3 linked regions of the Homo sapiens genome follow. The protein of the gene in region 3 purifies or fractionates together with the protein of the main gene of each other region. This does not show direct contact. Each region holds a gene or a part of one and is shown on either strand. Other genes may lie near its edges. The genes, in order: PRPS2, XPOT and EML1.

Region 1 (3,651 bases), on a different chromosome or scaffold from region 3:
TACGCAAGGATGCCAACCAGCAAAACAAGGAAGTATACCAAGAAAGAGGATACAGAAAATGGCAAATGGAGTGCAGGAGAGGGGGCAGGGAATCCCCGGATGGCAGCTGTGCACAGGCAGAGAGATAACCCAGGCCTGCCACCCCTGGGAGGGATGCCTGCAAGACGATGAAATGCAGATGGGACTTGAGGCCTCTGATCTTGGGAGATTTTGATTGTTAGTGAAGGGTTTAGGGTGGAATCTGGATTCAGGATTCAGAAAACTTAGCAGATAAAAAGGTAAGAGAATGACCTCCAGGGAAAATAAAAAGAAAAGATGTGCATAAAAAGAAAATACAAGCATTCGTTTAAGTTAATTGCATGGCAGAGCTCTGAGCAGCATTTGCGCAGTTAAAAACGTACAGTCAATCTTTAATGTGAATATTGATCTATATTGGGATGATGGCGAGATGGGAAGTTTACATTGCAAGTGATGGAACTGAATGGAAATGGAGTTCAGTCCTCATCTTCCATAGTGAGAAGTCAATACACTTTGCCTAAAATGAAAAATCAAGACACAGCAATACACACATAGTAGCTAGACTTGAAGGAAAGTATCCAAAAACCCTATCAAGAGTTGAAATTGGTGGCCTCTGGGCACTTTCTCTGTTATACGTCTTACAGAATGGTTTGAATTTTTTAAGCAATATGACTGTATAACTTTAATAAAAAACTAAAACTAAATGTAGTATTTTGCAGAAAAGAGTTAACATTAGCAGGCCTGAGACTTAGGCCTGTTCGCAAGGTTGGCCCTTGGCTGGCCTCTGGGAGCTTACATTTTGCAAGGGTACCCACCATTTCCCAGTAAGGATGGCTCACTGCATAAACTCTTAAACAATTGATAAACAATGTGGTTCATGCTGAATGCCTGTGAGTCTGACATTTTGGTACGTGCTAGGCAGAGGGTGCTTATATGACCAGCCCACAATACAAACCCTGGGACTTGAGTCTCTAAGCAGCTTCCCTGGTAGAGAGCCCTTCACACGTGTTGTCACAGCTCACTACTGGGGCATTAAGCTCTACCTCTGACTCCCCTCAGGGAGGAGTCTTGGAAGCTTGCACCCTGTTTCCCCCAACTTCACCCCATGCACCTTTTTCCCTTTGCTGAGTTTGCTCTGTGTCCTTTCTCTGCAATAAATTACAGCCATGAGTGCAACTATTAGGCTGAGTCCTATAAGTCATCCTGGTGATCATCAAACCTAGGGGTGGTCTCAGGGACGCCCAAGATGCAAATATGCTTCGATATTAACCGATGGCAGTTTTCTTTTCCTAGCGTGGAGATTGGTGAAAGCGTGAGAGGGGAAGATGTCTACATCATCCAGAGCGGCTGCGGGGAAATTAACGACAACCTGATGGAACTCCTCATCATGATCAATGCCTGCAAGATTGCGTCATCATCCAGAGTAACTGCCGTGATCCCGTGTTTCCCATACGCCCGACAAGATAAAAAGGACAAGGTAGGAGAGGTGTGTGCCCTAGAAACCTGCTGTGGGCCACTGTCAATGTTGTTTTTCCTCATTTATCCCCTTGATTAGAATTATCTGGAAAATGTTGGCTTTTTCCTTTGATGATCAAGTAAATATGCTTTCTTATTTTGTTTGTTGAAGATTTGGCTTTGAACCTACCCTGACATTAATATTCAAAGAAACAGGTAATGCATATTTTTGCAGGTATTAAAATACCATTATTGTCCTTGTTATAATGAAATTATTGTATGTCTTTGTGGTGGTGGATAGAACTAAATACACACACATACATGCACAAGAGTACAAGTCAAACTAGAGCACATCTGAATCAGATCACTGGATTGTATCAATTTCAGGGTCCTGGCTGTGATACTGTGTTATAGTTTCACAAGACGTTACCACAGGGAACTAGGTAAAAGGTTCACAGGATCTCTGCGTTGTTTCATACAACTGCATGTCTATCTACAATTCCCCCGAAATAAAAAGTTTAATTAAAAAAAAAACCCATGATCTCTTTTTAACCTTTTAAAAAGAACAGAAATAGTATCATTGAATTATGTTTTTCACAACATTAGCATCAGAGGAGGCTCTGTGAGTCTTTAGAAAAAAATTGAAGAAAATGTGGTTGGTCTTTGCCTTTCAGAGCAACAGAGAAATCGGAGGTTGAGAAGAACTTTGAAGGAGATTGTATTAGTTTTCTAAGCTGTCATAAGAAATTACATAAACCGCGTGGCTTAAAAGAGCAGAAATTTTTCCCTCACAGTTTCGGAGGCCCAGAAGTGTGAAATCAAGGAATGGGCAGGGGCACGCTCCCTCTGAAGGCTGTAAGGGAGGCTGCTTCCTCGCTTCTTCCAACTTCTGGTGTCTCCTTGCATTCCTTGGCTGTGGCTACATCACTCTGGTCCCTGCCTCTCTCTTCACCTGGCCTCTTCCCTGTGTCTCTTCTCTGTTTCTTATAAGGACACTGTCATTGGATTTCAGGCCTAACCTAATCCAGAATGAACTCAACTTAATCTTTACCTTGGTTATATTTGCAAAGACCCTATTTCCAAAATGAGGTCACATGCTGAAGTTGTGGGTGGACATGAGTTTTGGGGGGATATTGTTTGACCTACTACAGTGGTCAACTCCCAGCTGTTGTGTGTTCCGTATCTTATGGATAGATAGATGTTCAGCCAGGCTCAGCGAGAATCCTGCCAGTTTTCAAGACACACTGCTGTTCTGTGATTTGGTAACTCAGTGCAAGAAAGGTTTTCCCCAATATGCTGCTTTTTATCTCCATAATTCATTTCTGAAACAACACAGATTTCTGAAGCAGCACACAAGATCCCCTCATATTTGAAAAAAACCCTTTATAAATTTGAATTCATATACCAAAGTCCCCCTGAATTTTAATCCCAGTCTCCTCAAGACATGGTTTCCATTCCCTGTCTTGAAGATGGCCAGTCAGTTAATTTCTCACCTAAAATCTAATTAGAAGGGTCCACATACTTTATCTGTAAATGGCTATATGGTCTGTGTTGCAACTATTCAACTCTGGTTGTACTTCAAAAAGAGCAATAGACAATATGTAAATGAATGGGTATGGCTGTGTTCCAATAAAACTTTATTTATGGACACTGAAATGTGAATTTCATATTATTTTCACATGCCTTGAAATACTATTTTGAATTTTTTTCAACCATTTAAACATGTGAAAGCCATTATTAGCTCACAAGCAGTACCAAAACAAGTGGCTGGTGGCTGGTGGCTAGCTGGATTTGGCCTATAGGCTACAGTTTGCCAACCCCTGTATTAGACCATTGATAGATTGCGTGCGCACGTGTGTGTGTGTGTGTGTGTGTGTGTGTGTGTATGTGTGTGTGTGTTTATGATCTAAACTTGACCTTGGGCAGCCAAAACCTTAGGTCACATACACTGCTGTGAAGCTGTATCCTCCCACTAGCTATTTATACAGACAGCTCCTTTTATTTTAAACTTGATTTAAACTGTATTTTTAGCTGTTAAATTTCAATTTTCTAATTTTGTCCCATTGGTATAATCTGTTGTCTTAGCTATTCTTCCCATCTGTGTGTTTCCACAGGATTGTTTAGCATCTTTCTCCTTGTCATATCACATCCATGTCATAGAAGAGCTAATTTTCTGCC
Region 2 (3,651 bases), on a different chromosome or scaffold from region 3:
CTCCAGGAGTTCATTCCTCTTATCAACCAGATTACGGCCAAATTCAAGGTACCGCAAACTTTCAGAGCTCTGAAAATCTCTTGAAGATCAGATGTATTTATCTTCAGACATGTTTCGGATTTTGCCCTTGGGTTTCTTTTTTTTTGCTTTTAATGAATTACTTAAGAGCCTCATGGATCATATGTATTTTTATCATCTGTGGTGTCTGGCACACTGCCTGATACATAGGTCATGCTTAATAGATGTTTGAATATAAACAGACCCTAACCGCTTTGTGTAGCAAAAGAAAACTAGTCTGCTGTTTTAGAAGAGCATATAAAACCAGTAAACTGAGTACTAAATAAGCACCATAATTCAGGTACCCAAGCAAGAGTTAAAAGTAATTCAATGTATTAAAGTCAGTTTTCTGTAGGACATTTAAGCTGGCTAATAAAAGTGGTTAATACTTACATAGTACCTCTTTTTTCCTTTTTTCTTTTTTTTTTAAATGGAGATAGTCTCACTCTGTCACATAGGCTGGAGTGCAGTGGCGCGGTCACAACTCACTGCAACCTCCACCTCCCAGGTTCAAGCGATTCTTGTGCCTCAGCCTCCTGAGTAGCTGGAACTATAGGTGCATGCACCACACCACGCTAATATTTTGTACTTTTAGTAGAGACAGCGTTTCCCCATGTTGACCAGGCTAATCTCGAACTCCTGACCTCAAGTGATCCTCCTGCCTCGGCCTCCATAAGTGCTAGGATTACAGGCATAAACCTGGCCACTTACATAGTACTTTCTATGTTCAAAATCTGTTCTAAGCATTTTTTGTACATTTACTCATTTGATCTTCATACCTACCCTAGAAGACAGGGATTATATGTTATAGTTGAGGAAACTGAGGCATGGAGAAGTGAAGGGATTTGCCCAAGAGTTCATAAAACTCAGGAGTTCATTTGTAAGCAAGTATTGAGAACATGCTATTAAACAATGTTTTTTACCTTTGTTCAAAAACAAGAAAAACCCTAAGAGTTTAATCATATAATTCATTTTTTGAGAATTTAATTTTGAAAATATTCCATGGCAATATTGTGAAATATGTCTGACTATTATTTTAACCTAAATCTTAAGCTGTAGGAAAGGGTTTAAATTTAATGATCTTGAGTCTTTTAGTAATATTTTTTAAGGTTTTTTCCCCACCTTGAAATGGAGTCTTGCTGTGTTGCCCAGGCTGGAGTGCAGTGGTATGATCTTGACTCACTGCAACCTCCACCTCTCAGGTTCAAGCAGTTCCCCTGCGTCAGCCTCCTGAGTAGCTTGGACTGGGACTACAGGCGTGCGCCACTACACCCAGCTAATTTTTGTATTTTTAGTAGAGATGGGGTTTCACCATGTTGGGCAGACTGGCCTTGAACTCCTGACCTCAGGTGACTCACCCGCCTTAGCCTCCCAAAGTGCTGGGATTACAGGTGTGAGCCACTGCGTCTGGCCTAGTAATGTTTAGGTTATATAGATTTTATCTTAAAATTGATATTTGCTAACTGAATTATGTACGCATGCATCCTAAATAGAAAAGAAAGGCTTTATGTAAAATAGTTTTTTCTAAGTTGTATGTTAATATTGTTACTAATTTCTGAAGTAATGATTGTTTATCTTCAGATACAGGTATCCCCGTTTTTACAACAGATGTTCATGCCCCTGCTTCATGCAATTTTTGAAGTGCTGCTCCGGCCAGCAGAAGAAAATGACCAGTCTGCTGCTTTAGAGAAGCAGATGTTGCGGAGGAGTTACTTTGCTTTCCTGCAAACAGTCACAGGCAGTGGGATGAGCGAAGTTATAGCAAATCAAGGTGGGAACACATGCCATATCTAATTTGTCTGCTTAAGTCTGTGTCACTGTTGTACATCTATATGACCAAGAGCAAACTGAAGTAAATACAGAAATTTTGAAGTTTGCTATCCCATGGGAAGACAGTTTATTGTTTTCAGGGTGGGAATTGATCACTTTTATGTAAAGCACCTAAAATTAATTTGTATTCTGTTCCTTTTTCTTTCTGCAATATTTTTTTAATTTGGTTCTTTAGCAATATAAATAACATGGTTACTTACCAGAATTGACCTGACAATTGAGTCTTTATGGCAAATTTGCCATTTTGAAATATAAAATAAATGGAGCTGTACAGATTTGTGTAGAGAATTCTGTATAGGAAATTTAGGGAACAAGATACCAGGGGCAAACTGATTTTTCATTGTTTTATTTTTTAATTTGATTTGATTTGTGAGATAGGGTCTCACTCTCTTGCCCAGGCTGTAGTGCAGTGGTGTCATCACGACTCATTGCAACCTCCACCTCCTGGGCTATCCTCCCATCTCTACCTCCTGAGTAGCCAGGACCATTGGCAGTTGCCACAATGCTGGGCTTATTTTTTGTAGAGATGGGATCTCACCACGTTGCCCAGGCTGGTTAAACTCCTGGGCTCAAGCAATCTTCCTCGGCCTTACAAAGGGCTGGAATTACAGACAGGAGCCACCGCGCCCAGCTGATTTTTCAGTGTTTAATGTTTAAACTTTAGGTGCCCAGTTAATAAAAATCAAGGGATTTTGGCAATTCTGTAAATGCTTTTTTCCCCCTTCATTTTTCCCATTCCACCTGTAAATGATTTTTGACTTGTTAATGTATATGAAAAGAGAACTTCAGGTTGCTTTCCTAGTTAATTTTGGAAATTGCTTAAACTAAAGGTTTTTCTCCTCAGGTGCAGAGAATGTAGAAAGAGTGTTGGTTACTGTTATCCAAGGAGCAGTTGAATATCCAGATCCAATTGCACAGAAAACATGTTTTATCATCCTCTCAAAGTTGGTAGAACTCTGGGGTAAGATAATTTTATTTCTTAACCTTCATTTCCCAAACTCTTTCATAAAACTCTTAGACATAATGGAACATAGCCCTAACAGAGAGAGAAACTGGGAGTTGGTTTTCCCTGGTGATGAATTAATTGACTTACTTTTATATATAAGATGAAAATTTGAATTCTCTTGACAGGAGGTAAAGATGGACCAGTGGGATTTGCTGATTTTGTTTATAAGCACATTGTCCCCGCATGTTTCCTAGCACCTTTAAAACAAACCTTTGACCTGGCAGATGCACAAACAGTATTGGTAAGCACCTAGGAATCTTTGTTTACCTTGTGTAGCTCATATATTCCCAATTTCTTCTTTAATGCCAGGTTGATTATATTATGTTTCATTGATTTTTTTTTTAACTTAGTGATTTCAGATCAGGGTTCTTTTTTTAAAGATTTATGATACCTTCTGGAGTTTTTATGAATTCTTATTGAATCCCAATGCTACTGCTGAATTTTACAAATTCTACTCCTTCGACTTTAACACCTGACTTTTTCTAGGACCATGAAAGGGCATATGTCACAAACATTCTTTCAAGCTTGAGTATTAGTTTCCTACTACTACTTTAATTCTAAAACTTGTACCTAGTGGTTTTCCCTAATCATTAAGAGCATGAAATGGCAACTTGATCCTCCTTGTATGATAGTTTCCCCAAATCTAATTTTCACAATACTTAATGTCAATTTCCGCTTTCTCACTTTCCCACAACCTGGTAAAAGCTAGATTTCATAATTGTAATTTACTACGTTAAAACAACAGTTTGTATTTTTCT
Region 3 (4,307 bases):
TCAAACCCGCAGCACCTGTGGCCCTTCAGCCTTCACTCACAATGTATCTTCCCAATTAACAATCCTGCTAGGACAGGAATAAGCTCTTAAACTTCTCCCTCTGCCCACAGCATATAGCACCAGTCCTTACTAACCCATGCACTAACCGTGCCGCACGCAGAGTGACAGAGCCCTGTCCCTCACCTGCCATCTACTGATGTCCAAGCTGGGCTTCTGGAAGGACAGGCCTCTGAGCCCAAGCGAGACCTACGAGTTTTCCTAATTTTAACTTACTCAGTTCTTATTTCACCTACTCTATTCAACCTGCACAAGTTAGTACCTACCATTTCAGATTTTGGCATGGAACTGAATTATGACTGATGCAACAGGAAGTGTAAACGTTCTGCAGTCTCTTTGGGACCAAGCTCATTCTTGGGTTAGATGATCCATTTTATATATTCTAATTTATTGCTTCCCACTCGTTATTTGGCGCATCTTTACTTACTTTACTCCATGGGTATAAAATGCGAACCATTAACAGCATTTATACGTGTATGGCCTGGAAAAGTTACAAACTCATAGATCTATGTGTTTCTCCGACTGCGCTATTTTCTCCTAACTCTTGGTGTCTTTCTGATGTAGAATAAATACTGATTTCCTTAGTCCTGTAGCAAGTTAACAAGCCTGTAACGTGACAGATCTGTATCCCAGGGGCTGATCATAGAGAAACCACAAAGCGATGTTTTAGCTGCGTCGAGTCCTCAACACGGGGGACTTCCAGCCTGGTACCAGGATAGCCTCTCTGGCCCAGTGTGAGCGAAGGTTCGAGCTGACTTGCCAGTCCCGTGCTAAGTCTCACTGAGGCAGGGCCTTGCTGCCGCGGAAAAACGTGTGGACAGAGGAACGCGCCGGTCGGATGTGGGCCACAGTGAGCCGCGGCGTGGAAACGGCCGAAATGTGCGGGCGCGTTGTCCATGTTTGGTCGTGGAGCTGCCCGCGGGCGCGGGAACAGCGCGTCGGGGGCGGGTGGGCTTGGGTGTCCGTGGCGGAGGTTACCCCGGGCCCCACGCGCCCGCTCTCTCCCGGCCTTGGTCTTTGTCCCCGCGCCCCCGCAAGGGCCGCCCGCCGCGCCCCGCAGCCCCTGAGCCCCCGTGCGCGGAGGCGGGGCCTGGCCAAGGGGACAGCGGGCGGCAGACGCGCCCCTGCGGCTCCCAGGCCGCCCGGGCCGCGCTCCCCGCGGGGAAAGAGGCCGCAGGCGCGGGGAGGCTCGGCCCCGCCCCGCCACGTCCCCCTCCCGGCCCGGGCCCCGCGGCCGCCGAGGCCGCCCCCTCGCGGGCGGAGCGGGCGCTGGGCTCGCGCGGCTGCGGCGGCGGCGGCGGGCCCGGGGTTGCCATGGTAACCGGCAGCAGCAGCCGCCACAGCAGGGCCGGCCCCAGCGCCAGCGCCGGTCGCGGTCGGGCTCAGCTCAGTGTGTGGTGAGCGGCGGCGGCGCGGCCGGGCCGGGGAGCGGGCGCGGCCCGGCGGCCTCAGCATGGAGGACGGCTTCTCCAGCTACAGCAGCCTGTACGACACGTCCTCGCTGCTCCAGTTCTGCAACGGTGAGGGGCGGCCGCGCGGGGCCGGGGCGGCGAGCGGCTGGTGGCGGGCGGCGGCGACGGCGACGGCGGGGACCAAGCCGAGGGGCCGAGGCCCGGCGGCCGCGGGCGAGGCCGCGCAAAGTTGTTGCGGAGGGGCGCGCGGTCCCCGTTCCCGCCGCCGGCGCATTGTGTTGGAGCCGCGGGGCCGCGCCTCGCTCCGGGCCGCCCCGGGCTCCCCGCCGCCACCCCGGCTCCCGGCACTGGCGCGCGGACCCCGCCGGCTCCAGCACCCGCGGAGCGCGCCCGGGCGGAGGCGCGTGGGGCACAGGGCGGCGGGGAGGCCCGGGCAGCCTCCGCGTTCCGGGGAACGTGTTGCTTTTTTGCTTCCCGACCCACATCTGTTTGGAAATGACTGGATGAAGAACTCGGGAAACAAATCCTTTAATAACAAAACCCTCCTGCGAGGATGCACGCAGTGTTTGGACCCCCAGAACCCATTCAGGTCTACTTTAATGAAATCATCACAATTTAATACAATCTAGAGCTTTTTAAATGGAAAGCCAAAGTGGACCTGGCCTCAGTGTTGCTTCTTATTTTGTTTATGGGATAATGGATTCTTTTTTCTTTTTTTGTTTTTGCAATTTTACAGGAAGGAAACATTCATATCCACCAATATGGCATCTTTTTAAAAATATGAAATCCTACATGCTTGAAAGATTTCAGTCTCATTGGCAGGGTTGAAAAAGATTTTCATAGCACACTGAATATTTTATCAGAACATGATGTGTGATAATTCACGCACAAAAGTTAACCACACTTTTTTTTTTTTTTACATGTTGGATTTATTGCTCCATCAAAGGGCCCCAAAAGTTTGTTAATGGGAAAAAAAAATGTGTATTTGATAGAATTTGCTTAAGTGCAGTCGGAATAATTTTGAATTCTAGACCCTTTGACAACTGGAGCAATTTATTTTGCTATTGTATTGTGATTTAGGGAAAGTTTTCTTGTTATTCGACACCTGTTTGTCACTGTAGCAGTAAAGAGTAATGAGTGTGTTGATTCATCCTCTGTAGTGGTATTTTTTATCTCTGGTGAAATTTATCATCTTGTTCATGGTAGAATGTATACTCTGATAGCTTTTGCAGCTTATACTTTACATCTGAACCATTTGTGGGCCTTCATGAATTTAGTAATTCCCTCTTCAGTGGAATTAAAGAAAGTTTCTGCTTTTTCTCTGAATTTAACGCCAGTTTCCAAGAGCAGAACACCTGTGTTTTTGAGCCTCAGAAGGTGTTGAGGGCAGGTAGAATGTATTTGGTATGCTGGTGGTCCCTGGAATACTTTATAGTATAGAGTCATGGGAACGGTTTTGCTCTCCAGTAGGTTAAATAGATTCCTCAATTAACATTTTGAATAGGTTCCTTAATTGACTTATAATCAATCATATTTGAATTATTGTTTTTGATCTAAAAAGTAGTTATATGCTTATGGTAGAATTCTCCCTATGCTTAGTTGGAAAGATATGTGGCTGAAATTTGTATTAAATGACTTTGAGGCATCAGGTCTTACAAATTTAATCTGTGGGCGTATTATTGACAGCTTGATTTGCGATATGAAAATGAGCCTAGATATTTTTATTGGAGCAGTTGTTTGGGGCCTGGTCATACTGTTCCTAAATAGCAGTTTAGTCATGAAGTTGACCTACACGTCTGTTCATGAATGTTTTCGTTTTCTGCATTTTCCTTTTAATTGCCAGCCTAGAGATATTGGCATGGTATTTTACTGGTGGTGATGTCCAGAAGAAAGTAAAAACCAACTCTTATATTTTGTAGAAGTATTGGTTTAAAGAAAAACCACCTTAACTAGAATCAAACAATAAGATCACTTTATAACTATTGAATTACTTTTCTCAAAAAGTTCTCAGCTCTGTATTTGTTATTTTTTTTTTAGGTTGTCTAATGAATAAAGTTTAAAGCAAGAGTGGCCTATGGGGCAGAAGTCAATGTTAACTGGTGATGTCTTAGGCAACAGATGTTTTGATGTGAAACATTTTAAGAGGCTTTCATTAAGTGAAGATATAAATGAATACAAGTCAGTTAATTACTATGATGATTCAATTAAAGCAGTGGATCACAGAAATGCCATTTCACTAGGAACTAAATTAAACATTTGGATATTTCATTAGCTACATTGGCAAACAATTTTTTCTTTTTAAATGAGAGACTTACATTACAATGGCAAGACAGCAGCATAATACATGAACTCATACATTTTCATATGTTCAGTATGCGTCATGCTGTTAATAGTGACAGAAACTAAAAAATCATGGTTACAGCTTTAGAAAATATAATTCACACATATTATTTGGATGACTGTCATAGTTAATTTCCTTCTGGTCAAATAAAGACAAGATCAAGATATGCGAAGTTGAGGCGGGAGGATTACTTGCAGCCAAGAGTTTGAGAGCAGCCTGGGCAACATAGCAAGACCCCCCTCTACAAAAAATTTTTAAAAGTTGGCTGGGCATGGTGGCTTGAACCTGTAATCCTAGCTACTCAGGAGGCTGAGATGGGAGGATTGATTGAGCCCAGAAGTTTGAAGCTGCAGTGAGCTATGACTGTGCCACTGTACTACAGCCTGGGTGACAAAGTGAGACCCTGTCTCAGAGAGAGAGAGAGAGAGAGAGAGAGAGAGAGAGAGAGAGAGAGAAGATAATGTGTAAATGAGAAGGGAGAAAGAGAAAAGTTTGTT

The links.
Region 1: the proteins of EML1 (region 3) and PRPS2 purify together in Homo sapiens (affinity purification with mass spectrometry; one large-scale study listed by BioGRID and IntAct). This does not show direct contact.
Region 2: the proteins of EML1 (region 3) and XPOT fractionate together in Homo sapiens (co-fractionation; one large-scale study listed by BioGRID). This does not show direct contact.

The regions. Positions count from the first base shown.
Region 1 is NC_000023.11:12,797,896-12,801,546, forward strand, and holds part of PRPS2 (ribose-phosphate pyrophosphokinase 2), read left to right. Parts: intron 1-1,311; coding exon 1,312-1,495; coding exon of another isoform or gene 1,496-1,504; intron 1,505-3,651. UniProt on the Homo sapiens protein: Catalyzes the synthesis of phosphoribosylpyrophosphate (PRPP) that is essential for nucleotide synthesis.
Region 2 is NC_000012.12:64,431,776-64,435,426, forward strand, and holds part of XPOT (exportin-T), read left to right. Parts: coding exon 1-48; intron 49-1,638; coding exon 1,639-1,828; intron 1,829-2,731; coding exon 2,732-2,848; intron 2,849-3,018; coding exon 3,019-3,134; intron 3,135-3,651. UniProt on the Homo sapiens protein: Mediates the nuclear export of aminoacylated tRNAs. In the nucleus binds to tRNA and to the GTPase Ran in its active GTP-bound form. Docking of this trimeric complex to the nuclear pore complex (NPC) is mediated through binding to nucleoporins.
Region 3 is NC_000014.9:99,791,967-99,796,273, forward strand, and holds the start of EML1 (echinoderm microtubule-associated protein-like 1), read left to right. Parts: upstream 1-1,446; 5' UTR 1,447-1,510; coding exon 1,511-1,577; intron 1,578-4,307. UniProt on the Homo sapiens protein: Modulates the assembly and organization of the microtubule cytoskeleton, and probably plays a role in regulating the orientation of the mitotic spindle and the orientation of the plane of cell division.